2 separate regions of the Homo sapiens genome follow, and region 1 is linked to region 2. The links come from fine-mapping of genetic effects on gene expression. Tissue or cell type: skeletal muscle. Region 2 holds a variant in brackets; the other region holds the start of a gene. All regions are shown on one strand. Distances are from middle to middle.

The links. PIP is the estimated chance that this variant, and not a neighbour inherited with it, causes the effect.
Region 1: it holds the start of CACNG4, and the variant in region 2 is fine-mapped to the expression of CACNG4 in skeletal muscle (GTEx, PIP above 0.99).

The regions. Positions count from the first base shown.
Region 1 is chr17:66,963,366-66,966,032 of GRCh38, forward strand. CACNG4 (calcium voltage-gated channel auxiliary subunit gamma 4) reads left to right here and starts at 1,342. Exons shown (of 4, transcript NM_014405.4): 1 at 1,342-1,766. The coding sequence starts at 1,547.
Region 2 is chr17:67,043,119-67,045,958 of GRCh38, forward strand. It overlaps CACNG1 (calcium voltage-gated channel auxiliary subunit gamma 1), which reads left to right and starts at 1,436. Exons shown (of 4, transcript NM_000727.4): 1 at 1,436-1,771. The coding sequence starts at 1,543. The variant T/A (reference allele first, on the strand shown) is at 1,189.

The DNA of each region.
Region 1 (2,667 bases), 80 kb before region 2:
CTCACAATCTTGTGGGACAGAGAACAGTGATTTCAACACGGGGAGTGGGGACCAGGGAAGGTGCCACAAAGAAAGTTAAGCTTCGTCTTGCAAGAATAGCAGCACTCCCTATACCTTTTTCCATATCCTGGGGTCCAGTGCAGCCAGGGATGCCAACAACAGGACCACCTGGACATGTCAAAGGGTGCTGCACCTCCTGATGCTGGGCTCTGAGAACCTCCTGGAGGGAGGGGTTTGGAGCTGGGTCTGGAAGGAGGAGTCCGGACCGGCTCCCTGGAGAAGGGAGTGTGTCCAGGTTGGGATCACGGCCAGCAGCAAAGGCAATTAAGTGAAGCCAGCAGGGGTTGGGGTCAGAGGCTGACAATAAAGGCCAGGGGAGGGAAAGCCGGTTAAGCTCGAGCAGAGCAAAAGGCAAAACGAAATAAAGGCATTGCGAAAGGTTGGGAGAGAAAGGGAAAAGGCTGGCGGGTGGAGTGTTGGAATCTAACACAACTGGAGTGTCCCTGGACTCTAGCAGTAATAGACCCTCAGAAATGTGAGCACAGAGGAACGCCCCATCTTCAATCTCAGCCTTGCCACCACTCTAGAAAGCAGAGACCCTGTGTTCTCCCCAAAGGACTTCTCGCTGTCATCGCCCTTCTCCCTCAACCCCAAGTCAGGGTCCTTCCAGGCCCTGCAAGGGGATCTGGAGGAGCAGGAACCACCTGGGTTGGGGTGGGGCCTGGCCCGGGCCTGGCGTGGCTTGCAGGGTCTGGCAGCTGTGTCCCACATCTGGGGTTTCAGGAATTCTGACCTGAACACGCACTCCCACACTCACCTTCATCACCAGGTGAACAGGCACAGAGGGGAAAGGAGGGACACACCCACCCACGCCCTCCTCCACAAATTAAAGAATCCGCAGGGCCGTCGGAGGGGAGGCTGGATGTCCTGGGCGGGTAAGAGAGGTGGCTGGAGACGCGCTTTCCCTTCGGTCCTCCTGGGGAACACTTCCCTCGGCTTCCTTCACTCCAATAATGTGAATGAACTCTGGGAGAGAGAGAGAGCGCGCGCGGGCGCGGGGAGGGGAGGGGAAGGGAGGGGAGGGGAGGCGAGGGGAAGGGAGGCGAGGGGGAGAAAATCCTGGCTGGGGAGAGAGGGGAGCTCAGAGGAGCGCACAGCCGGGCGGGGGCCGAGGCTCGAGGGGCGGCGCCGAGAGAAACGGGGCGCGGACCCGGAGCGCGGCGGCGGCGGGGGAGGCGCGGAGGGCGCAGGGCGGAGGCGCGGGCCGAGGGGGGAGGGCGAGCGGAGAGGGAGGAGCCCCCGGCCGCCGCCGCCAGCCCGCCCGGCGGCCGCGCAGCCCGCACTCGTCGCCGCGCCTCGGAGTTTGAGCCCCAGCGCTGCCGGAGCGCAGGCACGCCCGGGGCGCGGGGTCGGAGCGCGCAGCGCGGCGCCGCCCCCCGGCCCTCGGCCCCCCAACCCCGGCGCCCCCGGAGCGGCGCGCGGAGGGAGGAGGGCGGGCGGGCGCGGCGGGCCGGGCCGGCGGGCGGCGGACTATGAGGCGCCCACCATGGTGCGATGCGACCGCGGGCTGCAGATGCTGCTGACCACGGCCGGAGCCTTCGCCGCCTTCTCGCTCATGGCCATCGCCATCGGCACCGACTACTGGCTGTACTCCAGCGCGCACATCTGCAACGGCACCAACCTGACCATGGACGACGGGCCCCCGCCCCGCCGCGCCCGCGGCGACCTCACCCACTCTGGTCTGTGGCGGGTGTGCTGCATCGAAGGTACGGCCAGCCCCGACCCCTCGCCGCCCCACACACACACACACACACACACACATATACACACGCGCGCGCGCGCGCGCGCACACACACACACGCGCACACACTGCCCGGCGCGCGGGCCGGGGAGAGGGTGGGCGCGGCGCTGGCTCCGCGCGAGACACAAAGGAGCCGGAGCTGGCGGGCGGGTCCCTTCGCGGCCAGCTGTACATCAGCTCTGGTCCCTCTCGGCTGGGGACCTCCCCAGCACACCGATCCCACAAACTCTCCACGCGCACACCCCCTCGCCCACAGACACAATGAAACACACCGAAACTCAAGCACGCGCGCGTAGCCCGGGACCCGAGCGATCCCCAGGGGCCGCGCCGGCACCCCCGGGGGAGGTGGAGGCTGGCGAGGGGGCGGGAGGAGGCTGGGGTTGGGGGGAGCGGACGGGAGGGGGGGAGGGGTTGCTTGGCAACCGGTGTCTGTGCTATTGCTATGGGAACTGGCCATCCTGGGGCGGGGCCGGCCGGGGGCGGGGCGCGTCGGTGCCGCTGGGCGCTTTCTACAGGCTCGGGCTGAGGGGTGGGGGCAGAAGTAGGGGCAGAAGTAGGGGCGGGGGCGCGGTCGGAGCCGGGGTAGGGGCTGAGTTCCTAGCGGATCTAGGGTAGCTGGGTAGGCCCAGCCCGACGCCCGCCTCGTCTCCCACGGAGTCACCGGCCCGCTCCTCGCTGTGCGGTGGGGTGGTAAGGGGAGCGACACCGAGTCTCCCCCAACGGAGACAGCGACCTCGGTCGCGGCCCCTCAGCAGGGAGGCTGCGGAGACCTCAGTAGGAAACTAGGGTGTGCAGGACCGATCTGCGGACCGGGAACAGACTGGGAGGGGCGTGGTCATCTCGTCGGAGCTGGGCGCTGCGACCCC
Region 2 (2,840 bases):
AGTGACTTCATGTCTCTGAGCTTCCATGTCCTTGTCTGTGAAATGGCAGTAACCGTTGTAGTCCCCTTGTGGATTGGTGTGAAGAGTAACTGTGACAATGGATGAAGGCTTAGCAGGGTACCTGGTAGATAGTAAGCACTCACTGAAGATGAGCCACTGTTCTGATTATCATCATCATGAACTTTCTGTGATTCTAAGGCTGGAGGCCGAAACATTTCTGTCCACATGGGCAGAGTCTCTGTAAATCGTGTCAATCTGAGGCCAGGATTTTGAAGCTCAAGGCCCCACCCAGCTCAGGAGGCTATTCCTGGTCATGCGTCAGCCTCTCGGCTACACCCAAAAAGGGCCACCCTGTGAGCCGAGAAGGAAGAGATGACACAACCCAGGAGAGATGTAGAGGCTGGAGCCTCGGAGACCAGCCTGGGGGCCAGGCGGGTGCACAGGACCGTCGGAGGGTGGTCGATCCCGGGCTTTCTGTGTTCTCTGCACGCCCATGAGCTCCTAATGATCCCCTATAAATCAACCTATTCATTCTTTTTTACTCACACACTTATTTTTCAAATTCAAACATAACTGGAAAGTCGTTATCACCTGCTGTTAATAGAAGGCAAAACCAAACAGTGCCCTGAAAAACAGAATGACCAAGTCCAGCAGGATTCCTCGTCCTCTTCGGGCCGTTCTCGCTTTGTTTCAAAGGACACTTTACAGGCAATAATGACACTGACCTCGAACAGAGCTTTGCTCTGGACCCAGTTTTGGGGATGGAAAGAGAATTGAAAAGGAAGTAATGTTCTCGTGGAGGGATCAGAGTTGGGTAAGGCCAGACCTGGGAACCACCTAAAACCTTCCTATGGTTTGGGGGATGCCGTGGGGTTTGTGGCTAAAACGCTTGCCTAAGAGGTGGACTCCACAGGCCCTGGACTGGGTTCCCGGGATGTCATTAGACAGAATCCTAGCCCCTCAGATCCCAGGATGAGAACCTACTCACTGCCCTGCCGGTAACAGGCTTACCCCGTGGGAGCCCGGGACAGCCGTGCAGCCCGCAGCTCCTGGTCTCCTCCCCTGGCCTGGGCTGCCCTTTCCCATCAGCCCAGAGCAGGCAGATCCCCACCCCCGGGGCCCTGCTGCCCACCTCTCGCCCTCTCCCAACTCAGGCACCCTGAGCTGCTACTCACAGAGGCCTCAATC[T/A]ACCATCCAGAGCCTTCTCTCCTTGCCACCCTGCCCCGCCGCACTGGGGTATTTCTGGCTCCCAGAGGGGCAGAAAACCCTGAAACCCGAGCAGAAGCTGTCCTCGGTGCCACGCCTGGAGATGGGCATTAATAGCAGCCTCCCTCAGGCCCCTGACGCGTCTGGGCAGCTGCTCAGCACGTCCCGCGTCCCTCGGCCCCAAGGCCAGCCCACTCTGGCTCAGCCAGGCACACTAAACTTAGTGGCCACTCCCAGCTCGACAACCACTGCCACCCCCCAAGCTCGGCTTGTCACCTGCCCTAGGAGACGCAGCCGCCGGACCCTGCCCAGGGCACCCACGCCTCGGCGACCACCATGTCCCAGACCAAAATGCTGAAGGTCCGCGTGACCCTCTTCTGCATCCTGGCAGGCATCGTGCTGGCCATGACAGCCGTGGTAACCGACCACTGGGCTGTGCTGAGCCCCCACATGGAGCACCACAACACTACCTGCGAGGCGGCCCACTTCGGCCTCTGGCGGATTTGTACCAAGCGCATCCCCATGGACGACAGCAAGACCTGCGGGCCCATCACCCTGCCCGGGGGTAACGTACCCACCCTCCGTCCCGATCCCCACCTCCTGCTCTTCCCCGTCATCCCCCTGGCAAAGTTGCCCTTGCGAAGGAAGGCAGGTTTCTCTGCCTAGAAATAGGGCAGCCGCCCAGCCTTTTCTGCCCAGGGAAGAAGATATGAATTGCATGTGTGGTGCTGGTGGCTGGGGCTGGGTTGTAAGACGAGGGCGTTTGTCCCAGCTATTTCTGTCTGGCTGGACCTTGGGGCTTTTTGCCCAGAGCAGAGAGCTGGGCAGGCTCAAGAAAGGAACTGCAGCTCTACCAGCCCAGGGACTTCTGGGCCCCACCTGCTCACTCTCTCCCTGCAAAGAAAAGCTAGGTGGCTCTGTGTCCTCAGGCTAGGGGGACCCATGGGGCTGGCAGGTTTGTTCCTGGCCTCAAGGCAGGAGAGGAGAGAGCATAGGCGATGGAATTTGCAGGGTCCTGTGCAGAATGAAAATGCAGGGTTCCTTGCTCCAAATTACCAAGGATTTCAAGGCAGTGACAGCAGCACATGAAACCACACATGGGCCCTTGTGGGCTCTGGGCCTGGAGCAGCTGCACAGGTTGAATGTCTGTGAAGCAGGACATGGCTGTAGGCTGTAGGTGAGCCACCTGCCCCCACCTTCTTTTTTTTTTTTTTTTTTTTTTTGAGACAACTTTGTCGCTCAGGCTGGAGTGCAGTGGCATGATCTTGGCTCCCTGCAACTTCTGCCTCCTGGACTCAAGCGATTCTCCTGCCTCAGCTTCCCCAGTAGCTGGGATTACAGGCATGCACCACCACACCCATCTAATTTTTGTACTTTCAGTAGAGACGGGGTTTCACCATGTTGGTCAGGCTGGTCTCGAACTCCTGACCTCAGGTGATCCACCTGCCTTGGCCTCCCAGAGTGCTGGGATTACAGACGTGAGCCACCATGCCCGACCTCCACCTGTCCTTTTGTCAGGACTTCAGTCCTCTATGCATCCTGTCTTAGCTCAGACCCTGTCAGAGTTACAAAGCATTTCCTCACCCTGTAATTTAAGCGTATTCCTCGATTTCCTACCGTGTGACCGAACCACA